Homo sapiens: one gene and its partners. The protein of the gene in region 5 interacts with the protein of the main gene of each other region in a biochemical or structural test. Each region holds a gene or a part of one and is shown on either strand. Other genes may lie near its edges.

Region 1 (3,500 bases), on a different chromosome or scaffold from region 5:
GAAACCATCTGTGTGTTAATGGACTCTCACTTTCATTTGACCTTTTTTTGTGTGTGGTAGGCAAACTTTCTTGACATGTGCTTTTGTTTTTTAAGACTGCTTAAAATGAAAATTGTGAATAATTTACATTGAAAATTGGTATCCATTTCAAAAAAACAGAATTATTTTGACTTGGGAAGAGTTTTTTTTTTTTTTAGCATACTTATGTCACTTTCACTCTCTGATGATTAATTCGTTTCTCAAGCTATTTTCCTTTTACACAGAACATAGTTTTTAAATTTTAAATAATTACTTTGCTTAGGATTAGTAGTCTTTATTTGCCCTGCGTACCTATATATAGTAGCATAACCATGTAAAAACCATGCATGGAGAAAGGTTTGTAATTATTTTAGTAGTGGTCATGGTAAAGTAGATCTGTTTGGATTTTTTAAAAAACATAAATACATATATACTTATATATCGTATAGATGTGTGTATGTAATAATGGTTTCATTCATTCCATTGGTCTGTACAACAAAAGATTCTGAAATAGATCTGTGTCACTGGTTTGAGGTACCTTCCAGCCTCTCCCAAATAGGAAAATAGAGAAACCACTAGTCTTCCTCCTTCCTTTTATGACCAACTGAAACACTGGTAGAAAGAAAATGTGGAATAAACCCTAAGAGTCCCACTTAGAAGAGCAGCTGTGATACAGCTGAGCTCTGCCTTACTGAAACAGCTGCTGTATTCACCATGGGCAAGTAGGAATGACAAGTTGTTAGTCATAAGCAATGCCATCTTGAGATGGATAGTACACTTGTTGGCATGGCTAAGCTAAAGCTGCTCCGAAACAAAGCAAAATCCTCTGGCATGACATAAGAGGTGGAAGAACTCACGCATTGTAAGTTTAAATGTGGCTTGATTTCTTCTCGCTTAAGAGAATCTCTGTTAGCAGTTGGTTGGTTGGTTTATTTATTTATTTAAACAGGGTCTTGCACTGTTGTCCAGACTGAAGTGCAGTGGCGAGATCATAGCTCACTGCAGCCTTGACCTCCTGGGCTCAAGTGATTCTCCCACCTCAGCCTCCTGAGCAGTTTCAAAAATATATAGGAAGTACTTTCAAGGCTCTGACTTCATGCAGTACTAGAGAGAATAAATACATGGGACACTGACAACATAAAAGCAAAATTGGAGTCTCCATAACTATGAATTTCAAAAGTTTGTCTAGTTGATAATAAAGTGAAAACATAAAGTTGCCTAAAGGTTGGTAGCTTTTTATATTAACTACTTAATTCCTGTAGGATAAAATGGACCAGTTGCTACAGATGCTGCAAAGTACAGACCCCAGTGATGATCAGCCAGACCTACCAGAGCTGCTTCATCTTGAAGGTAAAACTTTTCTATTTACCTTGCAAATAAAGAGTAGTTAGAGGTTAATAACTGGTGTCCTGTTAAAGAATGGGTTTTGAGGATAATATTAAAAATGGAACATTTCTCACTTCTCCTTGACCCAGGCTCACTCTCATATGCAGTTGAAACCTTGGGTAGAATTTGAATTCTTATAATTTTCTATCCAAACGAAGTGTTCTGTTCAACATTTTAGAACCTGGTAAAATGAAAAATGGCACTTTAAGATTTTCAGATTAATATTTTAGATTAAGTTGTCACCATTATACTTTAAGAAAATCAATTTTGGGTTCTGTAGACTAAGGTTAAAGAATGTATATTTTTATTACTCCAAATTAAATCTTTTATTCCTTAAATTATACAAATATCTATCAAAGGTTCACATTTTTTTTTCTTGTACTTTCTTATATTTCTTCACATCTTGTCATTTTAGCAATGTGTCACCAGATGGGACCTCTCATTGATGAAAAGCTGGAAGATATTGATAGGTAAAAGAACATGGGTGCATTTATGTTGTGTACCTTCTTTCCTGAAGCTATCACTGTACTGCAAAGTGGGCTATAACTGCCTTTTAAAAAAAAAATATTGTGGAGGAACCAACTCTCATTCACATATCTTGTGCTAGATGTGGAGAATTAGACTCATTTGTCCTTTTTTTTAAAGTGAGGATTTGATCGACCTTTGCAATATAGTCAAAAGGACCAGCGTAGATAGGTCGTTTTAAAAACAAGGGCTAGCTATGTAATTCTCTTTGCTGAAGTGGCATTACCAGAGCTCACAAATGACCCATATGTTAGTAACTAGGGAAACCAAGATATTTCTGGTACAGTCAGGTACGATAAGACGGAGTTCCCTTAGCACAGCACGTAAACCTTAAACAGTTTGGGTTGCTTCAGGGCTAAAATGCAGGATATTTTTGTTATAAGTGAAATTTTTAATAATGTCTACTAGTACTACTTTTTGCCATTTTTGATATTTTGATGTATCATTATTTAGAGCATTATATCATTTTAGTAACAGCTATGCTTCAAATTATTGTGTCATGTTTCAGAAAACATTCAGAACTCTCAGAACTTAATGTGAAAGTGATGGAGGCCCTTTCCTTATATACCAAGTTAATGAACGAAGATCCGATGTATTCCATGTATGCAAAGTTACAGAATCAGCCATATTATATGCAGTCATCTGGTGTTTCTGGTTCTCAGGTAAGCTTTTAGAAGCCCATGTTGTTTTAAATTCTCAAATGCACAGTGAGGTGTGGTAGCTCATGCCTGTAATCTCAGCAATTTGGGAGGCCAAGGCAAGAGGATTGCTTGAGACCAGGAGTTTAAGACCAGCCTGGGTAACATAGTGAGACTCTGTCTCTACCAAAAAAAAAAAAAAAAATTAGCCAGGCTGGGGCATGTTCCTTGGTCCCTGCTCTCGAAAAGCTGAGGTGGGAGGATAGCTTGAGCCCAGAAGGTCGAGGCTGCAGTGAGCCGTGTTCACACCACTGCAGTCTAGCCTGGGCAACAGCGACACCCTGTCTCTAAAATAAATAAATAAATAAATAAATTCTCAAATGCATTTGAGATTATTTGGAATAGCTGTTTGAAACTTTCTAAAACTAATGTTTAAAATTAAAATAAAGTTTAACGGAATTTTTTTACTTGGCAGTTACAGCATATAATATACTAATTATGCTAATAGTTTTTTGTTGTTGTTGTTGTTTAAAGGAAATAGCTTTTATACAGGGTTATGCAGCAGAATCAGCCATCACACTTTTGAAAAAAATTACAGATATATCCATCCCACTCCAGACCTATTGAATCAGAATCCTCAGGGTTGAGGCCCTTTTTTTTTTTTTTTTTTTTTTTTTTTGAGGCGGAGTCTCACTCCGTGGCCCAGGCTGGAGTGCAGTGCTGCAATCTCAGCTCACTGCAAGCTCCGCCTTCCGGGTTCTCGCCATTCTCCTGCCTCAGCCTCCTGAGTAGCTGGGACTACAGGCGCCCGTCACCACGCCAGGCTAATTTTTTTGTATTTTTAGTAGAGACGGGGTTTCGCCGTGTTAGCCAGGTTGGCCTTGATCTCCTGACCTCGTGATCCACCCGCCTCGGCCTCCCAAAGTGCTGGGA
Region 2 (3,517 bases), on a different chromosome or scaffold from region 5:
TGAGCTCAAGTGATTCTCGCATCTCAGCCTCCTGAGTGGTTGGGACGACAGGCAAGTGCCATCATGCCCAGCTAATTTTTTAAAAAAATTTGTAGGCCAGGGGTGGTGGCTCACGCCTGTAATCCCAGCACTTTGGGAGGCTGAGGCAAGCAGATCACGAAGTCAGGAGATGGAGACCATCCTGGCCAACATGGTGAAACCCCATCTCTACTAAAAATAAAAAAAATTAGCTGGGTGTGGTGGCATGCGCCTGTAATCCCAGCTACTTGGGAGGCTGAGGAAGAATCACTTGAACCCAGGAGGCGGAGGTTGCAGTGAGCCGAGATCGCGCCGCTGCACTCCAGCCTGGTGACACAGCGAGACTCCCATCTCAAAAAGAAAAAAAATTGTAGAGAAGGGTTTCTCCATGTTCCTCAGGCTGCTGTGGAACTCCTGGGCTTAAGCAGTCGGGCTGCCTCGGCCTCTCAAAGTGCTGGGAATACAGGTATGAGACACTGCCCTTGACCAAAAATAAACTTTATTGAAGTGAAACATATATACAGAAAAGTACACAAACCATGAGGATAAAACTTGATGGATTTTCAAGTGAACATACCCATGTAACCAGCAGAACAGAGTTTAAACAGAATGTTACCAGCACCCTAACTGTGCTTGTACCTGCCTTCGAGTCTGGAAAACCACTGACTTCTGGCAGGACAGATTTATAGATTTTTGCCTGATTTTATGCTTCGTATAAATGGAATTGTACAGTATATCCTTTTTTTGTGTCTGGCTCCTTTCATTCAAAATTATGTAATGTTCATCCATATTGTTGTTTATATTGTAATTTATTCATTCTCATTGCTGTATAGTATTCCATTGTATGAAAATACTACAATTTAGTAATTCATTCTACCATTCAGGAACTTTTGGGTAATTACTAGCTTTTGACTAATGCAAAGAGGGTTGCTATAAACATTCTTGTTTTTTGGTGAACATAGTGTACACAGTTCTTTTGAGTACATACCTAGGAGTGAAACTCCTGGTTCAGAAATACGCATATGTCTGGCTTTAGTACATACTGCTCAGTAGCTTTCCAAAGCGACTGTACCAATTCATACCCCCACCAGCAATGACTGGAAGTTTCAGTTGCCTTAAATCCTTGTTAACACTTGGTAGTCTTTTGTTCGTTTTGTTTTGGCCCTTCTGGTTGCCCATATAGTAGAATGGCATTGTGGTTTAAATAACTACTTAAATTTGTATACTTTCTTTTGTGAAATGCCTAAACAAGTCTTTTATTCTTTTTCCTATTCTGTGGCCTGCCTTTTTCTTATGGAATTGTAGTTCTTTTTAAATCTTGAGTGTACATTTTTAAATTACCTTCTGTGGCTTGATTCTTCACTCTTTTTTTTTTTTTTTTTTTTAGACAGTTTCGCTCTTGTCTCGAACTCATGACCTCAGGTGATCCACCTCCCTCATCCTCCCAAAGTGCTGGGATTACAGGTGTGAGCTACCGCGCCAAGCATACTTTTTCATTAAATATTTTAAAGATATATCCATATTGTTGCATGTGGTTATAATTTCACTAGCCTATGATGTATATTGTGTGAATATATCATAAATTATCCATTTTCCTATTGATATTTCATTGTTTCCAAATTTTTGCTGGCATGAACAACATTATGCAGACATTCCTGCATATATATGTGCATAAGAGTTTCTCTCATGTATATACTTAGGAGTGAGGTCACTTAGATCATAAAGTATGTGCATATTTAACTTTCTACAAGTGATTATACCAATACATACCCCTACCAGGATCATCAGACTTCTTAATTTTTGCCATCTAATGGATACAAAATTATCTCATTTTAGTTTTTCCTATTGTATGAAATATTTGTCTTTTGCACATTTTTTACAAACTGGGTTATTTTTCTTCTTATTGATTGGAAAGAGTCATTTACATGTTCTAGATCCTTGTTATATGTTACATGGGTTAGAAATAACTTTTTTGTTTTTGGTTTGTTGTACATGATCTTTTTGTTTCCCAACTTAAATAAAAAGAAGTTCTTAGAGATAGTTCACATACCACAGAATTCACCTTAAATGTGTTCAGTTGTGTTTTTTGTTGTTTTTGTTTTGTTTGTTTTTGAGACAGAGTCTGGCTCTGTCGCCCAGGCTGGAGTGCGGTGGTGTGATCTCGGCTCACTGCAACCTCCACCCCCTGGTTTCAAATGATTCTCATGCCCCAGCCTCCCAAGTAGCTGGGATTACAGGTGCACCACCATGCCTGGCTAATTTTTAAAAATATTTTTAGTAGAGATGTGGTTTCACCATGTTGGCCAGACTGGTCTGGAACTCCTGACCTCAAGTGATCTGCCCATCTCAGGGCCTCCCAAAGTGCTGGGATTACAGGTGTGAGCCACTGTGCCTGGCCAGTTCAGTAGTTTTTAGTACATTCACAGAGTTGTGCAGTTATCACCACAGTCCAGTTTTAGAACATTTTCGTTATCCCCAAAAGAAACCCTGTAACCCGTTCCTTCTCCCCCAGTCCATAGCAACTACTAGTCTTCTCACGTGCACTCTCTCTCGATCTCTCGCTATTTTTTTTTTTTTTAACAGAGTCTTGCTCTGTTGCCCAGGCTGGAGTGCAGTGGCATGATTTCAGCTCACTGCAACTTCCGCCTCCCAGGTTCAAGGGATTCTCGTAACTCAGCCTCCCGAGTAGCTGGGACTACAGGTGTATTTTTGTATTTTTAGTAGAGGTGGGGTTTCACCATGTTGACCAGGCTGGTCTTGAACTCCTGACCTCAAGTGGCGCACCCACCTTGGCCTCCCAAAGTGCTCGGATTACAGGCATGAACCACTTCTCCTGGCCTCTACTTTATATATTTCTATAGATGTGCCTATTCTGCGTATTTTTAAAATTTTATTTATTTTATTTTTTGAGACAATATCTCACTCTTGCTCAGGCTGGAGTGCAATGGTGCAATCTCAGCTCACTGCAGCCTCAACCTCCCTGGCTCAAGTGATCTTCCCTCCTCCCTCCCTCGAGTAGCTGGGACCACAGGTGTGCACCACCATGCCCCAATAATTTTTGTGTATTTTGGTTGAGATGGGGTTTTGCTATATTGCCCAGGCTGGTCTCAAACTCCAGACGTCAAGTGATCCACCTGCCTCGGCTCCCCCAGGTGCTGGGATTACAGGCGTGAGCCACAGTGCCTGGCCTATTCTGGGTATTTTAATAAACAGAATCATAGAATATATGACCTTCTGTTTTTATTTTCTTTTATTCAGCATAATGTTTTCAAGTTTCATTCATGTCATAGCATGTATCTGTACTTCATTCCTTTTTATTGCCAAATAATATTCCATTGTATAGGATATACCACATTTCCTTAATCCATCCAGTGATGGACATTTGGCTTGTTTCCACTTTTGGCTGTCATCAGTAATGCTGCTATGAACATTTATGTACAGGATTTTCTGTAAACATGTTTTCATTTCTGTTGGGTATATACCTAAGTGTGAAATTTCT
Region 3 (3,500 bases), on a different chromosome or scaffold from region 5:
CAGCACTGGCGAGGCCCCATACTGAGGAGGAGACACTGGCGATTAGGATGCTTGTCTCACCAAGAGGCCCAAGCTCTAACAATCTCAGCCCCTTTCCATGTCTGAGCCATTCCTAGGACCCTCTCCTATCTTCTCAGGTTTCTCTGCCCTTCTTTGTTGACGTCTTCCCCAGTCGCCAGTCATCCCCAGACACTACGCCCTGAACCCCACCTCTTTGATGATGGAGTAGCTGAGTAGGAAGCGGAAGGAGGGCAGCCGGGTGACAGGCAGTGCTTGGAGGCTGGGCATGCTTTCCCACGGCAGCTTCTGCAAGTCCTGGGCAAAAAGCACTAAGAGGTTACTGTCCCCAGCCAGGTATATGCAGAAGTCAGAAGGGGCATGGGGATGAGTTGGTATTCACTCCCCACTAGACACTGCCCCTCTGCCCCAGCTCCTTACCTTGTCTAGGACCAAGACAAGGTGGCTATTGCTTGGTACTGTCAGGCCCTGTAGACGTCCTACTGCCTCATTCAGGAGCTCCTGGGCTCGCTCTGGCTGGGTTGGGCACAGCCCGTAGGCCAGGGCCTGAATGTCCTGAGGGGTGAGGGCACCGGCACCACTGAGCATGATCTGCAGGGAAACAGTGGTGGTGAGCACCATCTTCATTCATGATAGCTGCTGGGAAAGGATTAAGTCCAGTTTCTTCCCTTTCCCTGTTTTCTTTTTTTTTTGACAGAGTCTTGCTCTGTCGCCCAGGCTGGAGTGCAGTGGCGCAATCTCAGCTCACTGCAACCTCCACCTCCCAGGTTCAAGCGATTCTCCTGCCTCAGCCTCCTGAGTAGCTCGGACTACAGGCATGTGCCACCAAGCCCAGCTAATTTTTGTATTTTTAGTAGAGATGGGGTTTCACCCTGTTGGCCAGGATGGTCTTCACCTCTTGACCTTGTGACCCACCTGCCTCGGCCTCCCAAAGTGCTGGGATTATAGGCGTAAGCCAAGGGGCCTATCCTTTTTTTTTTTTTTGAGATGGAGTCTCACTCTGTCACCCAGGCTGGAGTGCGGCGATCTCAGCTCACTGCAACCTCCGCCTCCCAGGTTCAAGCAATTCTCCTGCTACAGCCTCCCGAGAAGCTGGAATTACAGGTGCCTGCCACCATGCCCAGCTAATTTTTGTATTTTCGTAGAGACAGGGTTTCACCATGTTGGCCAGGCTGGTCTCGAGCTCCTGAGCTCAAGCAATCCATCTGCCTTGGCCTCCCAAAGTGCTGGGATTACAGGTGCAAGCCACTGGGCCTGGCCCCCTTCCCTGCTTTCCTCACTCACTTTCAGCAGAGTGCGGTCAGGATATTTCCAGCCACAGTCCTGTAGCAGCTCCTGTAGGCGGGAGGCCTCCTGGGCAGGGCCGGGCTCCTCACTGGACGGCAGCAGCAGCCCCTTCCAGCAGCCCAGCACAGACTTCTCTAGGGAAGCGATGAGAACCTGAATGCAGAGGGCAGACCCTTCAGTCAGAGAGGAAACCAAGCTTCTTTCTCACAGGCACTGACATTTTGGAGATGAGAAAATGCGTTTTCCAATGTGCATGTCTGTCTTACGTATCTTTCTGCTGGGAAGCTGATAGTTGGGTTTAAGTCGTTTTTTTTCTGCGTATCTTTAAATATCCATTCCCATATATTCTTCAAGTTCTGGGCTCTGAAGTTCTCCCCAGGTGACATATTTTTAAATTTAGGTCTACACTTCCAGAAGGGATTTGAAGTGGCTTTAGCACTGACCCAGGCCGTCTGGTAGAGAAGTCACTGGGACCCCCCGGGTCATTCCTAGAGCAGGCCTGACCCCACCCCAGAAGCACACACCTCCATCCTGTGGTCCAGTGCCAGCCGCCCTGTCCACCATTCTCGCTTGTCAGTACAGCTGCTGTTCTCTTTCTGTGCCTTCTGGATGGCATCAAACTCATTCAGGACTGAACGCAGATGAAGCTTTGGGAGATGGGGCTGTGAGAGCTCTGCTTGTCCACGTGATCACCATCTCTCCCTCCCTCAACACAGAATGTGAGCAGCTTGACCCGAAGCCCAATCCAGCCCAACTTTGCTCCATGGCCCAGGAATCCTACCTTGTTCTGGCCAGTGGGAATCTGCACACTGACTGGGGGACTGTCCTTTTCCAGCCGGGTCAGCAGGAGGGTGTTGCCCACGGTTCCGGGCTGGAGGGTGGCCAGGGCCAACACACACACAGTCACCCCTGACACACAGGATACAGCCAGACTCATTCAGCTGTTAAAGGAATTCCCTTCCCTGTCTTGGGCACTCAATTCCTATCCATCACTCAAGCCAGCATCAAGAAGCCTTCCCTGGTCACTAGAGGTCAAGGTGCTCTCCCTTGCTCTAATAGCTCCCTGTGCACAGAGACCATGACTTGTACTTTGTGTCCCTCACAGCAACTAACAAAGTGAGGCACTCAAATCATGTGAATATGTTTCATGTTAGCACAGAAGACCCCAGTCATCTGAACTCACCTCTGAGGAAAGACACTGAATTTGCTGGTAATTCAAAGTTGAGGTTTAAAAAAAACAACAAACCTTCCTGATGTAAGATGCTAACAGGTGAAAAGGTATGACATAAGGGTCATAAATCTATGTAAACTAACCAATGCCTAAAACTCCTTCACCCAGCTCCCAAGTAAGAAGATGCAGAAGAGGACAGAGGAGCCGGCCAGAAGGCTGCCCGCATACCACTGGGGATCAGAGCCAGGCGCTCCTGGAAACTCTCCTTTTCAGGCTGGGGGAAGTGGCCAGATTCCAAAGCCCTGAAGGAAAAGAGGCGCTGGATGCGGGCCAGGGGGACATCTCCAGGCATCTCCTGAAGGCTCAGCCCCTGCAGCTGGTCTGCTATTTCAAGTGATCCTCGGTGCTTCTGGGCCTTGCTGCAAGCAACACGGGGAGGGGTGAGGTCCCATTCCTTCAAAGTCTGGACCTTCTCTCTAGTCTGCCCCAGCAGGAGTCTTGGGGATGGTCAGCACCCACCTGAGCTGTCTGTGGAGGTGGGTGAGCAGCTGGTGGCGACAGGTGATGGAGACAGACTCGGTGACAAGGAAAGCAGTGGCATAAGGATCCCGGTGGCCCAGGCACAAGGCCAGGAAGCGGCAGAGGTGGGCATAGAGCCCACTAGGAGGACAGTGACTAATGCCCCGGAAAGCAACACTCAGGGAGTCACAGATGGAGTCCAGGGTAGAAAGACCTAGAAGAACGTCAGGACACTTGGTACAGCTGAATTCCTTATTTCATAGTTGATAGGAACTTTCCAAGAAGGAACAGTCCCTATCTCATCTCCCACATGGCAAACAGCAACTACCATTTATGAAGGGCAATGTGCCAAGTGGGGTGCCATGCAACTAACAGGCATCAACTTATTCCACCATGCTCCCTAAACCCCATTTTTACAGAAGGAATAGAAGCTTGGAGAGGTTAAGTGACCTGCACACAGCTCATAGACAGAGTGCTGGGGTTCAAACACAGGTTCAGAGGCTAC
Region 4 (3,500 bases), on a different chromosome or scaffold from region 5:
AACATAGCAAGACCCACACGTAGGGAAAAAAACATAGCAAGACCCACACATAGAAAAAAAAAAAAAACCCACACAGAGAGGAAGAGCTGTTTCACTGGCAGGAGCAGCAAAGGGCTGGGTAGCTGACTCCCCGAGACCAAAGCCCTTTTTCAGGTCTCACACCCATGCCAGGTGCCAATGGCTAGGCTCAAAGTGTGGCTATTTGCTGGAAATCCAAATTCTGCCCACAGCTGATCCTAAGTGCCTGTGCTCAGCCATGACTGAGGGGCAATGAAGAGAGGCTACACTACAAAGAGACCCTGTGCCACAGAAGAGGGAGTGGTTGGGGCAGGACAAGGTGACAGATAGAGTCAGTACCCGTGTCCCCCCTACCAGGGCCCCTTGGTTCCATCAGGGCCAGATTACCAGCCCAACTGATTCAACCCTGAGGTTCCAACCACAAAGGGATGAAAGAACAGGGAAGAGACAGAAGTATCCTCTGGGATAGCTCTGCCATAGACCCACAGCCTCAGGCCCCGACCAGAGGACTTACTTGACAGCTACTGACTTGGCCTGCAGGGCCGTGCTCCAGAAGTCATCGACCTGCTCAGGGGCCCCGTAGGCCTCCAGGCAAGAGCTGAAGGGCACCTGGGCCCGAACCAGTTCTGGCAGTGCCATCTTCTCCTCTTCGGCTTGCCGCTTCTTCTCCTCGTACTCCAGAAGCTCCTCTGGTGACAGAATGGGTTGGTGGATCCTTCGGAGGGTGCTGCTTCTTTGCCTCCTTAGCCTCTCCCTACTGGCTCTGTGTCCGTATTTCAGTTCCTCTACCCTTCCAAAGCACCCCTGACACATGTCCAATATATCTCGCCTGTTTCCATGCAGCTCTGCTAACAAGCTGAGTGTCCACTGGACGAGGTTAATCTACCTACTCCTGGTGGCCCAGACTGGAACCTTGGCTGGTGAAGCAGGGCATTCCCTGGGCTGTGCTCCCATGAGGTGCCCAAGCATTCCTCCTAGACCTTAGCCTCCCACCGTGCCACGGCCTTGCTGATGGAGCAGCCTACCTTTGTTAAGGGCTGCATCCATGGGCACAGGCAGCTGCATGATGTAGTCAACTCGCTGGGTGTACTTCACCTTCTCTGTGGCCAGGCACTTGATCTTTTCCTCCACCAAGAAGCGGAACACTTCATTAGGATTTTCAGAGCTCCGGCAATTCCTCTATGGGAAAGAGGCAGGGTAGGGAGGTCTGGGCAGCCAGGGAACAGAATGGGGCCTGAAAGGTTCATGGGAGAGTCAGGGAGAGAAGGCAGACTACCACTCGGAACTCAGGGACACAAGAGCAGAGCAGAAACCTTCCCTAATTCACCAACCCCTCCCCATTTCTGGCCCCATCCCTGCACTGAGGGACTGTGTTAGAACACGCTTGTATTTTTCTTTATAAGCAGCAAGTATTCTCTTATCATTGTCTTTGGGCATAATCTGAATTGGGCTTCAAGCCCATCAAGGGTAGGGATCATCACCTTCACTGTCCTCCTCAGGTGCAAGCACTGTTCACAGGGACACAGACTGTTGGGGTTCAGGGATGGGACTGGGTTGGGGCTGATAGAGGGAGAAATGGGCAGGAAGGAGAGCGAGTAAATTGCAGGAAGATGGGGGTGTGCCATCTTGCCAGCCCTTACCTCCACCATGTTGATAAGGTGAAGGAAGAACTCCTGGGCATCCTGCTGCCGGTTGGTGGAGAATTCAGGGTGGCCCTTGCCGATGAGGGCCTTGAACATCCGAGGGGCAATGCCATCTTGAACTTCCTGGGAAGAGTCAGGGCAGGGACTCAGCTGGGGCTCAGTGGCCATCCAGGGGCCTTCTTTAGACATCTCCCAGACCTCAGCTTCCCCACAATCCCAGGGCCTGAAAGGGACAGGGTCCTAGACGCACCTTCTGTTCTGGCACCCGCTCCCCATCGCCCGACTCCGGTACTGGCTTGGAATACTCCCCGGAGAGAAGGCCATGGCCCAGCTTGGCCCTGCATTAATATCCAAGAAAACATTTCACTTCAGTCAACTAACGACCCTGTGTGTCCCCAGCTCAACCCCCTGCTCGTGGCTCTCCCTAGCTAACTCTCAACAACGTGAAAAACCTTAGATTCTACAGGAACCCAGCTCAAGACAGACAACACGTCCAGAAGACAGTCACCCGAATGCTCCTAATAGGCCAGTGGTGGCCGTGCACGGTGGCTCACGCCTGTAATCCCAGCACTTTGGGAGGCCGAGGTGGGCAGACCACGAGGTCAGGAGATCGAGACCATCCTGGCCAACATGATGAAACCCCGTCTCTACTAAAAATACAAAAAAAATTTAGCTGGGCGTGGTGGCATGTGCCTGTAGTCCTAGCTACTCAGGAGACTGAGGCAGGAGAATCACTTGAACCCAGGAGGCAGAGGTTGTAGTGAGCCGAGATCGCGCCACTGCACTCCAGCCTGGCAACAGAACAAGACTCCGTCTCAAAAAACAAAACAAAACAAAACAAAAAAAGGCCAGGGGTTAAAGTGCTGTGCCCCCCAGGCGGTCAGGGAGGAGGAAGGTATACGGCCATGACTGTCAACAGCTTTCCTACATAGGACCTGGTTACATACACCTGGGTGCTGAAATCCTGGGTAGGGTCCGTCGGGGCATTCTGGAAGATCTTCTCCAGCTTATCCACATACCTAAAAGTCAAGGGAAGGACAGTTGGAGGGGCTCTGGCCTGAGCGCCGAGGAAAAGGGAAGGAAGCAAACATTTACTAACTCTGTGAACGGGCTCCCCTCAAGAGTGGGGAGTTGCTGTGGGTGAACCTTGGAGTCGCTTCTCTCCAGCAACCTGCCTGTTCTCCCCTTCTCAGCTATGTCCAATGTGCAAGCACGCTCGGCGGCAGAGGAGCCGGGGAGGGGGAAGGTAGCCTGGGATTAGGATAAGTGCAGTTCACGTTCTATTGGACAGAACCTGTTGACATGTTCTGAGCATTCACATTCTAATTGTTCCCCAAATTCGAAAGTAAACTCATTTCTGCTGAGAACCTGCCTTTATTCTTAGTGTGCCAAGCCCCCCTCCTCCCCAAGTGCTACATGTCCATGTTAGGTGCTCATCTGATGTCACTGCCCTAAAATAAAGACCACCTGCTAACCCTTGAGTCTGTCAGAAGGCCACAGAGCCCTGGGACTTGGCACTCTGCACTATCAGTGGGGTTTGTGTGTTGGGGTGCTGGTGGTGCAGCTCCCTAACTTGCTCCCCTCACAGCATGTCAGCCAGAGTGTGACAGGAATTATTCTTTTTTTTTTTTAAGAGAAGACAGGGTCTCGCTATGTTGCCCAGGCTGGTCTCAACCTCCTGGGCTCAAGCAATTCTCCCATCTTGGCCTCCCGAAGTACTGGGATTACGGGTGTGGGCCAACACACCCAGCCGATAGGAACTACTCTAAGACTAGAATCAAACACAGAGGTGCTGAGGGAAGCTGAAGGAGGAGTATGCCCAGAGGGTGCTGACCAGGA
Region 5 (3,500 bases):
AAGAAGGAGTTTCACCATATTGGTCAGGCTGATCTCAAACTCCTGACCTCATGATCCACCCGCCTCGGCCTCCCAAAGTGCTGGGATTACAGGCGTGAGCCACCAATCCTGGCGGAATAGATTTTTTTTTTAATGTGTTTCATTTCCTCTCAATTTCTCTACTATTCTCAGTATGGAGTCAGGGAGAATGACCTAAACCAAATTGTTGATTATGAAGATACTCTGCAAATGTGCAAGAAATACATCCCTTACTCCATTGCCTTCCTTGGAACAGTCAATTCTCATCACAGTTCCCAACCAAATTATAATGCATGGAGATCCAGTGGTGCCAACTATTTTAATAGTAAATGCCTTACCACTGTCATCCACCCATTCATTCATGGATTTAACAAACAATGCATGTCATTTGTGTCAAGACTCTGGGGATCCAAAAAAGAATTAACATAGTTCCTATTCTCAAGGAGCTCACAGTTCACTGAGAAAGACTATAGACCAATAATGTAATTCAATATGGTAGGCTGAATAATGTAAATATTTTAGAGATTTATACCAGATGCTTTAGAAGCATTTATGGAATCTTTGTCCAACCCTTTGTGTAGGTGGAGGAACTTTGAGGGGAGCCAGAAATGTTGACTCAGGAAGAGTTTCTCAGAGGAATTAGTACTTGAACTTGACCTTAAGGAGGAATAGGAGTAAAGGAGGTTGAGGAGGGGATGAAAATGCTTGAAGTCCTAGCAGTTGTGAAAGTAATGGAACAAGGGCCCATGCAGCATGTCAAGATGTGGAAATTGCCTGGCTTGACAAATTTCCACTCATTTCCAGCCCTTTAGCTTGAGAGTCGGACTGTTCAACCAGGCCTAGAAACTGAAACCTATTAGTAGCTTTCCAATCAAACTCTCTTTCACTGTATTATCTTTTGTTCCAACCTTCAGGCAACCAGGTGCCCACTGTACACATGAAATAAGCCTCTCTGATATTTAGAAGCTCTACTGTGATCATATAATGGTTTCCAGCTTGTTTCTCCCAAATGAGTTGTGCACTTGAAACATTTATAATATGAGTATTATATTAAGATGTAATACAGGTAGAAAGTCTTTGATTCACAAAAATTTTCTCCTATGTGATTTAATATGTGAGAACATTCAAGTTTATGGCAGCCAAGTCATTTACAATGAGACAGATGTGAAGCATGTGTAATCTAGTGTACTCTCTCAAGTCAAATAAAGATTAAATCACTTATTTTGACCATATAATTTTTTTTGGCAGTTTAAATGGAATAACTAATTTCATTCCTATATTACTTGCAATTCCAAGCATTATTTTATTTCTATTCTGTTTTTTTAAATAACTTATATTGAATGTTAGTAAAACTACTATCATTTGTTTATACTTCATAGTGCAGGAAATGCTACCCCATATGCGGTCTATGCTTTATTAAAATTATTATATCATTAAATACTTTGTAAAGTGCTTATAATATTACCTGGCATATATTGGTACTGGATCAGTGTCTATTAAATTTAGGTACAAATTCCTTAACCTGAATTATTCAGTTGTGGAATTTTGAAGCTGCATGGAATATTAGAAGTAACCTGCTCCAAATCAATCATGTCACTCATGTGGAAACTGAAACCCAGCAGAGCTGTCACTTTCTCAAGGCCATCCGACCATTTATTATTGGTGCCTGGCCTACAGTCAAGGTCTTTGAACTCCTGGGTCATTGCTACTCTCACCACACCCAGCTGGGCCCATATTTTAAGTAACTTTAAAAAATTATATGAAGTGCTTGTAAATGGAATATATGCCTTTTAACAAATGTACTGGCCAGGTGCAGTGGCTCACACCTGTAATCCTAGCACTTTGGGAGGCCAAGGCTGGAGGTGGAGGCTGCAGTGTGCCAAGATCGCGCCATTGCCCTCCAGCCTGGGTGACAGAGTGAGACTCCACCTCCAAAAGAGAAAAAAAAAACAAAACCCAAATTCACTATGCTTAAGGTAGATTTTTTAAAGGCAAGGCATCTTAAATTGTTTCAGAATTATATTCCTAGTTCTTTCAACAAAATTCACCAACCACTGACTTTGTACCTGGCATTGTATGATCTAATAACCTGCCATAATTTTCCATTGTTTTGGAGAATAATGAACAAAAAAAAGTATCATAAATGATAAATATAAAATCATTATATTTTCTAATTCCTAATGGAAAAAACTTTTTTCTCTTGTTTAATTAGCTTTTAATATAATTCTATGCAAAAAATGGTAAGAGTTAGATAAATCTGTTTCTGAAACGGCAAAAATACATGCCTCTTCTTTGGAATTACGAAATTGGAACTTACAGACTTTTAGAAATTAACTCAAAATGTTCAGGTTAACCTAATGTCATATTCAAATGTGAAATACTCCATGAAATGAAGTCTCCTATTTTTTCACACTCTTTGAGGTAGAACCCACACACAAGAGACTAACTTAGATGTCCCCTAATCTTTCTTGGCTTCAAGACCATCAAAGTGCTGTGAAAGTCAGGGAACAATAAACACCTCAGGTTATCAATTTGCCCTCTAAGCTGATGAGGGAACAGATATGTGCCATGAAAAAAAAATGTTCTCAGAGGCCACCTAGCTACTGACAGTGATGACTCTGAATTTCAGTACCTACTGTGCCTTTGTTAATGTGAATCTGCAACACTTTCAGCAGTGACTTTCTAGCAGCCTGAAAAATGGAATAGGAAAAAATGTGGACTTTTGCATTGTGAAAACGTCTGCAGACAGAACACTTTAAAGGACTGTTGTTACCTACAAAAGCATGATAGCAACCATATTTGTCTCTTCTCCACAAAAACTTCCTCATCTCAAAGACTGCTCCTTGCTTTTAGCATACTTTTTCATTTACTTGAGTAAAAAGGTATGTATCTTTAAGACCAATTCGGAGCCATACACCTCCCCTCTTCTCTGGACAGTAATTCAATCAAGATATACACTTTTTGAGCTTTCGAGTTTATCTTTTCAAATAGTCTCCATTTTCTTCCTTTTGATGTCTGTGCTTCCTACATCCTCTGTGTGTGCACCTGTGTGAGTGTGCTTAGCAAGTGAAGTATACCTCCACCATAAATGAAGTAGGTATTGGTCTCCGGGTATACTCTGATGCAAAGCCTCTGGCTGCTGCACAGCCTTCCTCCTGGGTCTGCTAGGACAGTTATATTTCTTGGCTTCTTGGGAGAACCAAATTAAAGTTGTCTATAATATTTTAATGAAAATAAAATTCATCCCATTTCTAGGGAGAATGCAGTGTGGATGCAATATACCAAAAAGGGATGATTTTATAAAGTGAAGATCATCCCTCCCATATTGAAATGGTAAGATGATGATGGGTGGGATATTTGTTTCTAACCAATGCCAACATTTCTGGATGTAAAGAAAAAAAATCAAATGGTCATTTGGTTGTTTCCTTAGAAGTGAGTAGGTAACATTTAACATTGACCTAAAGCCATTGTTGAACTGTTGC
Region 6 (3,992 bases), on a different chromosome or scaffold from region 5:
GGTTTCCCCCTCATTGGTGGAATAAAACCCAAACCCCACAGCACAGCAAGTGAGGCCCTGCACAGAACATCCTGACCCCACCAAATTTTCTAGACTCAATTTCCCTGCCTCCCTCAATCTCCTTGCATCTTCAGAGGCTGTTCACCTTTGCCAAAATCCCCTATTCTTGACCATGCTTCAAGGCCTGATAGCCCACTGTCCCCCCGCACCCGCCAAAAGGAATGTGCCCTTCCCAAATCCTTCTTGAACACTCATATACATCCTTCAACTCAGCTCAAAAGACCTCCTCTGCAGAACCTTCCAACACCCCCACTCCCTCAGAGCATATTGACCTCTCACTGTGTTCCCAATGTCCTTAGGCCTCTTAGGCATGACCTGTAGCTCAGACACTGCTTGTGTCCAGCTGTCTTGGCCAGCAGGCAGTGAGCTCCTACAGCGGGCAGGCACCTTGTCTTTCTCATCAGTGTCACAGTGCCCAGCACAGGCCTGACAAAGGTGCCCACTGGGGGCCTGTTTGACAAATAACAGAACAAAGCACAATAGGACCCTGCGGTTTTCCTGCTTATGTCTGACTCATTCATTCGTCAAACATGAAATGCACCTTGAGTGCACGAGAACCCTAGCTATTTGCAGTCCCTGCCAGAGGTCTGGTCCTTGTCTCACCCCTACCTTCCCAAGTGTCTTTGTGTCTTCCACGGGGCGCCCTTCCTCAAGCTTAGCCCAGTGATGTAGAAACAGGAAAGTAAAGAAGATGCTGTATTTTCCAAGGATATTCCTTCTGTCACCACCATCCACACAATGCAAGTTCAACATAAAAACCCACCATGCAGCACAGGGCCCAGTATGGTCCCCGCATGCAGTAGGTGCTCAATAAATGCCATGTGCAGGGAAGGGAAAAGACCCTGCATGGCCTCCACCCCTGTGATTACCAGACAGACGTCATATTTTAGTGGGTTAACCACTTCATCCTTCGCCAAGGCACCCAAGCCCCCGGTGAGGGGTGAGGGCTTTGGACCCCATCTGCCATCTAACTTCCAGTCTCCTGAGTCAGGGCAGATAGGGAGCAGAGTGAGCGGCCTCACTGCATGGCACAAAGAGCAGCTACCGCCTCTGCTGTGCTCTCAGCTGCCGAGTGGTGGCCAGAGGGCATGCCAGCCTCCAGCTCCCGGGTGGCTAAGCCCATCATTACCCCAGCTCCACCACTCCCTGGTGGGTGATGCAGAAACACCTGGGCTGCCTTCCAGGAGCAGCTCAACCAGGTAAACCCTTGGGCACCAAGTGGAAGCAGGAAGCTGGTGCTTCCAGATGCTCCAGAGGCCCCCAGCTATGCCCCAGGCAGCAGGCTGGCTTGGCAAGGACAGTCCCAGCTCGAGTGCCCTGGCTGCCTATGCCACACCCAGATCGTGCCAGGCCATGACCAGGCTTTGACCCATGCCCCAGCCCGGCAGCATGCTGCCGTGGTGACCCATTTTCCTGCCCAGTCATAGGAGAGAGGAGGCTAAGCTTGAAGAACCAGGCATCTGTGCACACCCATTTCCAGGACTCTGTTGTCACAGGAAAAGCTCCAGCTAATCATATCACATGGTTCCCATGACACAGATGTGCAAAACGGTGCTGAGGGGGAGAGCGGACCAACCAAAGCCTCTTCGCTTTCCAACAGGTGGAAGTGAGACTTGAACCTGGGGCTGTGTGGCCCCGACTCAAGCCACCCAGCCCTCACTCCACAGGCTCCCCCTGCTCAGGGTTGAAGGGTCTTAGGCAGCCATGCCACCCAGTCCCCTGCAGGATGCCTGACCCCACGGCAACCTGGAAGGTGAGCCGATGTAACACAAAGAGCACTGAACTGAGAGTCCAGAGCCTGGGTTCAAGCCCCAGGTCCACCACAATCAGTACCAGCCCTGCCCTGTCTGGCCTCAGTTTCCCCACCTGCCCAAGCCCAGGGTTAGCCTGGCTCAGAGGGTCTCTGGGCCTCGTTCTGCGCAGACAAGGCTCTCCATCAGGGATTCCTGAGTATTTTCTTTTCCCCGACCCCTAACTCATGCGCCTCACAACTTGAGGCATCCTCTCTAGGTGGGTCCTGACTCCAAAGATGGAGACGGTCTAGTCGCCCACGGAGCAGACGACCTGGTGCCCCGTGCAACCCCTAGATCCTCCCTTGGGGTTGGGGCAGGGGCCAGGAGGTCTTTGACGGCCGAGCCGTCGGGTGGGTGGGGCCGTGGACTGCTGACTGGGGGGCTACTTAACAAAGAGGAGGCGACCCGTAGTGCTGCAGCCTCCCTGTCCCTGCTTCCGTCGAGGGCGCCCACCCAGCGCCGTCGAGGCGGCGCCCCGGGCCACCTGGGGCGGACACGCTGGGGGCGGGGGCTCGGGGCCGAGCTGGACCTCCTCAGCTGCACATCCACGGGGTACAGGGGGGCGCGACTTGGCCCTCAGTATCCGTCCGGACTCCGTATTTCAGGGGGTCGGAAAGCGGCGGGGGCGAGCTGGGGGCTGAGCCTCGCGTCCGACCCCCGTCCCGCGGGTGCACCCGCTCCGGCAGCGACCCCGCCCACCGCGCCCCCTGCCCGCTCCCCCTTCGCGATCCCCCACGATCACTGACCATAGTGACCAGAGCCGCCAGGCCAGGTCCCGCCCCAGCGAGGAGCGATCCGGTGCGGGAATGCCGCGGGAGGCGCGGGCGGGCTCCGCCGCTGGTTCGGTGGCGGGGACCTCGAGGGCGTGGGGGCGGCGGAGAATACACCCGACCGCTCCGCAAACCAAAGGTTAGACCTCCACTGTGTCCCAGCAAGACACACGCCCTGCGATTGACGTCTCAGGCGGGCAATCAGAAGCCGGGACGCGGGACGTCATAGAAAGTGGGTGGGACTTCACGTGCCTTCAGCCTATGCGTTAGGGTCCATTTGATAGGATGCCTCCCCCTTTTAAAGACACAGGAAAGCTTTTAACTAGCAGAGGAGTTAGCTCAACCCAGAAAGACAGGTCCTCGTTTGTAAAGGCTGAAGGGCTTTTGCGCAAACCTAAAATTGGAGTCTTCTGAAGGATTAGCTGGCCGTCATTAATTCATAAACAAGGTCACATAAGTATAGTTTGCACAAGATCAGAGGATAGGCGCTTAGGGAACACGTGTCCAATAACATTAAGTATGGCTTCTATATAATATTTTATCCTCTTCCAACTCATGAATCAGTAGGTTGCCACGCACCCAGTTAATGTTTGTTGAATGAATGAATGTCCAGGATCGTTGACTCTGTGGCTCTGGAATTGTAGGGATATCCGTGAACCAGGTCTAGATGACTCATCTTGCCTACAAGCTCATTATTAATGGACATCAAAATAGGAATATTTATCATTCAAAGATTCATTCACCAGCCCTTGAGTCCTGGAGGAGCTGCTTGGGTGTGGGAGGGAGAGTTTGTAGGGGAGGGGGGCTCAGTGCATTGCATGCATCCACTTCAAAAAATTAATATTTCCAGGAGCGTGTATTGAGCAATTCCCCTTCCTGCTGCTGCCCCCCGCCCCCGCCCCCCGCGCCCCACTCTTACTACGTAAGTCCCAGGTACTGGGCTAGGCTCTGGGCATACAGACATCTGAGTCTTCCAAGCATGTATCATGTCCTGGGCAGGGAGTGTGAGGTCAATGGAGGCTCAAGGAGCAGTAACAATAGCAGGTAATTTTTTACAGTTATTTACACAGTTATGCAGAACACCTACTATGTATCAGGCGCTATCCTGAACTCTCCACATATACAGAATTATCTTACTTAATTTCCTCACAACTGGTTTAAGGGGGTAGGTCCTGTTATTATTATCCCTGTTTCACAGATGAGGAAACATGTACAGAGAGTTTACGTTCCTTGCCTTAGTCACATAGCACTGAAGTGGGATTCAGTCCCAGGCAGTGTGACTCCAGAGCTGGTTTCGAATTCACTCTGCATGTGACTACAGGGGCTGTGTTACCTGCCTCCGCCCCTGACCCCCATTTGTTTTCGGGGG
Region 7 (3,113 bases), on a different chromosome or scaffold from region 5:
GGTTGGGCCACTGCAGTCCAGACTGGGCGACAGAGCGTCTTTGCCCCCATCACCCCACCCCCAAACAAAGAAAGAGTAATGCACCAGAGTCATGAAATAATGATCTTACCACAGAGGGCGTAAAAAACAAAACCTCAGAAAATATTACCATATTTCGAAAGACTTGTGGAAAATAATTAAGGACCAGGTAGCAGAAATTGTGATCAGAGGAAATAACATAAGAATATACTTAAGCGCACAGTACATAGTTGGAGGGAGAACTGTTTATCCTTCTAAAACCGTTACTATGATCAACACAGACAAGAGACACTTCCCTGAAAGGTTAAATTGTTTCATGAGAAATAAAAGCAACCAAAATGAGCCACATTATCTACAATAGAAGAGACTATATGGAAAAAGTTCTATGGCAAGAGCTAATTCGTTGGTATACAAAAAGATCCATGAAAAATGACCCAATTTTAGACACATTAGATATTGCAGGCTCAAAAATCAAAGGAACATTTTGAAAGCTAATTTAAATTTAATTAATTGCTGAATGTCTCCTTGGCTAGTAGTTGAACGATCATTATTTAGTCCCACATCTCTCTCGTCATTTTGTTTGCAAACTGTCTAAAAGCCTTATTTCCTCATCTCTTTGACAGATGACCAAAATGGATCCTACAGTATAATCACACAGGATAATGTTGGAAAGTATGACTATCTAAATTATTTTTAAAGGCATTATTTTTCCCCTTTGATTTTCAAATTCTTTCTCATAATTTCTAAAATGGTGTCGACAGCGGCCTGTACTGTGCCTTCACTGATGTCATCACTGAGATCACTCTCAATTGCTCTCGAACTTGTTGTTGGCCTTTCGTGTAGGTATGAACTGTGGCCCGGCAGATCTGACTGTTGTTGCTGCTGCTTCTGTTCCTGCTGATGCTTTTCAAAATAGTCTTCTTTTATTTTCTTCGGCTGTTCTGAAGCAGGAGTTACACATGATGTCTTTGGAAGATCTTGCGATGTGTTTCCGGAACTACCTTGCATGCTTAACTCAATAGTACTGCGGAGATGTTCATCTTCTCTATTGGTTTCTTGGCGGCTTAGTTCAAGGGCCCTCTGAAAATCCTCCTCATCTTGGTCTGATGTTCCAGACTCATCACTTTCTTCTGATACTTTTTCAAGGACTGTTTTATAGACTCTATGCTCTTTTTGTTTTACTAATTTTTTTCCATTAAGTTTTGGTGTATCCATCTCTTCGACACTGATGATCTGCAGGAGTTGGTCAGCTTCACAGTCTGGCAGATCACCCTTGACAACAAATACAGAATATGCTTGTTGTTGTAATCGAGCCAAGAAATTTGCAAGGCATGTATCTGATATTAATTCTGGACCCGCCAAGAGAGAATTCAAGTTAAACCAGTGTTTTCCAAATTTTCTAATAGTAAACCAGTGTTGTTTATAATTACATATAAAAGATCTTTCATTTATAGGATCAATGCCGAGCTTCTGATATTCAGGATTATTGAAATGGATGATCTCTAAACCCCAGAACTTCAAGGCATTGCTTATTACCTGAATGGAGAAGAAACCGGTATCATCCATGTTTTCTGAAGGCTGCTGTAAAAATGCAAGATACTCTTCACTGGTGACTCCTCCTTCTGCCATTCTCATCCTCTCTTCTTCATCTAGCTGATGTGCAATTGAGGCTAATTCCACAGGGCTAAAATATTCTCCTTGCAATAGATTGTTCAGACAGTGCTGAGCACACAGGAAACCTTCCTGTTTCTCATGAAAGATGAAATCCATGTTAATTGTATCCGTGAGTTTCTGTAGGTATGCCGGAAGATGTTGTATGCCCAGCTATGGCAGTTACCTGGGCAGTTTGTGGATAGCCATGTAACAGATGTTAGGTTTTCAAACCTTATGAAGACCATGGGTTTTTGCAGGTATTCAGGTAAGAGATGGTATGTCACAAAGCACTATTGTGACCAAGGTGGTTTTGCCAGTATCCAGTCAAAAGCTGATGGTAAACCTAAAGTGAATATGGGATTTTGGAGTTATCCCATAGATGATAATGGTGACTTGCACCATAGTAGTGCCCGTTGGAATTTCAGATGTCCTATAAAAATAATGTCTCTCTAATTATGCTTGTCAGCATGGTTTTAGTAAGTAAATAAAGGTGAAATTTACCACAGCACTAAACAGAAGATTTGGCAGGTAACTGGGAGAGAAATAACATGGGCTTTAACCGAATGGACACCATGGGATTTTGGAACTGTCTGGCTAAGTTATCATGATGTCACTGACCACAATAATAGCCATAGAATTTTGTAGGTTCCAGTCAATAGATGACAATAAAACTCACAGTGGCAATGAAGATGGGACTTTGCTGGTATCCTAGTTAGAGATTATGTGGACCTGAAAAACATGAGTGACCAAATGATCTTCAGACATCTAGAAAACTGATGATGATGTCCTGAACTCTTTTCTTATCCATGTGTTTTTACAGGTGTTCAGGTAAGAAATGTATGTGCCTAACAAAAGTAGTAACCATTAGATTTTACTGTTTTCTAGTTCAGAGACAATCTTTCTCAAACTTAGTAGTGACAAAGATATTAGCAGGTATCCGGGTAAGATATCACAGAGTTCCTCACCACAGTAGTAACTATGGGATTTTTGCAGGAGTCCAGTGAACAGACAGTGTGTGAAACTACTATGTTGACCTTGGACTTCTCTTGAGTGTCCAAGTACACTTAGTGGTTGCCCTAATGATTATAGTGAGTGTATGCATGGAATTATCAGGGGTCCAGATGGAAGGACATGTATCCTGACCAGGGTTGCCACCATATGTTTTCTCAGCAGGTAGTCAAGAGATGATGGTGTCTCTAACTACAACATTGGCCTCAGAACCTTAAGATTCAGGTAGAGTTCATGGTTCCCCTAACAATACTAGTCACCATGGGATTTTTTGAGGTGCGTATAGAAGATGTATCCCTAACCACTACTGCTGCCATATGGTTTTGCAAGCTCCTATCAAGAGATAATGGTGAAACTCATATTAGTCATTTTTGTAGGAATTTCATGGAATCTAGCTAAGTGATTATGTGGACCTTAAACACAGTACAGACCAT

What was found.
Region 1: of the proteins of TRIM55 (region 5) and STAM, one has a biochemical effect on the other in vitro, tested with the Homo sapiens proteins (one large-scale study listed by BioGRID).
Region 2: of the proteins of TRIM55 (region 5) and USP8, one has a biochemical effect on the other in vitro, tested with the Homo sapiens proteins (one large-scale study listed by BioGRID).
Region 3: of the proteins of TRIM55 (region 5) and ESPL1, one has a biochemical effect on the other in vitro, tested with the Homo sapiens proteins (one large-scale study listed by BioGRID).
Region 4: of the proteins of TRIM55 (region 5) and USP5, one has a biochemical effect on the other in vitro, tested with the Homo sapiens proteins (one large-scale study listed by BioGRID).
Region 6: of the proteins of TRIM55 (region 5) and OTUB2, one has a biochemical effect on the other in vitro, tested with the Homo sapiens proteins (one large-scale study listed by BioGRID).
Region 7: of the proteins of TRIM55 (region 5) and ATXN3L, one has a biochemical effect on the other in vitro, tested with the Homo sapiens proteins (one large-scale study listed by BioGRID).

What each region holds. Positions count from the first base shown.
Region 1 is NC_000010.11:17,703,151-17,706,650, forward strand, and holds part of STAM (signal transducing adapter molecule 1), read left to right. Parts: intron 1-1,280; coding exon 1,281-1,368; intron 1,369-1,819; coding exon 1,820-1,874; intron 1,875-2,437; coding exon 2,438-2,591; intron 2,592-3,500. UniProt on the Homo sapiens protein: Involved in intracellular signal transduction mediated by cytokines and growth factors. Upon IL-2 and GM-CSL stimulation, it plays a role in signaling leading to DNA synthesis and MYC induction. May also play a role in T-cell development.
Region 2 is NC_000015.10:50,511,405-50,514,921, reverse strand, and holds the end of USP8 (ubiquitin carboxyl-terminal hydrolase 8), read right to left. Parts: 3' UTR 501-3,517; downstream 1-500. UniProt on the Homo sapiens protein: Hydrolase that can remove conjugated ubiquitin from proteins and therefore plays an important regulatory role at the level of protein turnover by preventing degradation. Converts both 'Lys-48' an 'Lys-63'-linked ubiquitin chains.
Region 3 is NC_000012.12:53,288,799-53,292,298, reverse strand, and holds part of ESPL1 (separin), read right to left. Parts: intron 3,210-3,500; coding exon 2,996-3,209; intron 2,896-2,995; coding exon 2,705-2,895; intron 2,215-2,704; coding exon 2,087-2,214; intron 1,953-2,086; coding exon 1,830-1,952; intron 1,459-1,829; coding exon 1,303-1,458; intron 610-1,302; coding exon 439-609; intron 316-438; coding exon 211-315; intron 22-210; coding exon 1-21. UniProt on the Homo sapiens protein: Caspase-like protease, which plays a central role in the chromosome segregation by cleaving the SCC1/RAD21 subunit of the cohesin complex at the onset of anaphase. During most of the cell cycle, it is inactivated by different mechanisms.
Region 4 is NC_000012.12:6,858,650-6,862,149, reverse strand, and holds part of USP5 (ubiquitin carboxyl-terminal hydrolase 5), read right to left. Parts: intron 2,681-3,500; coding exon 2,609-2,680; intron 2,000-2,608; coding exon 1,912-1,999; intron 1,785-1,911; coding exon 1,659-1,784; intron 1,198-1,658; coding exon 1,044-1,197; intron 708-1,043; coding exon 533-707; intron 1-532. UniProt on the Homo sapiens protein: Deubiquitinating enzyme that participates in a wide range of cellular processes by specifically cleaving isopeptide bonds between ubiquitin and substrate proteins or ubiquitin itself.
Region 5 is NC_000008.11:66,144,129-66,147,628, reverse strand, and holds part of TRIM55 (tripartite motif-containing protein 55), read right to left. Parts: intron 1-3,500. UniProt on the Homo sapiens protein: E3 ubiquitin ligase that plays an important role in regulating cardiac development and contractility, muscle growth, metabolism, and fiber-type differentiation.
Region 6 is NC_000014.9:94,025,148-94,029,139, reverse strand, and holds the start of OTUB2 (ubiquitin thioesterase OTUB2), read right to left. Parts: upstream 2,801-3,992; 5' UTR 2,603-2,800; coding exon 2,600-2,602; intron 1-2,599. UniProt on the Homo sapiens protein: Hydrolase that can remove conjugated ubiquitin from proteins in vitro and may therefore play an important regulatory role at the level of protein turnover by preventing degradation.
Region 7 is NC_000023.11:13,318,147-13,321,259, forward strand, and holds ATXN3L (ataxin-3-like protein), read right to left. Parts: upstream 1,908-3,113; 5' UTR 1,789-1,907; coding exon 721-1,788; 3' UTR 501-720; downstream 1-500. UniProt on the Homo sapiens protein: Deubiquitinating enzyme that cleaves both 'Lys-48'-linked and 'Lys-63'-linked poly-ubiquitin chains (in vitro). Acts as a deubiquitinating enzyme for the transcription factor KLF5, playing a role in the regulation of KLF5 stability.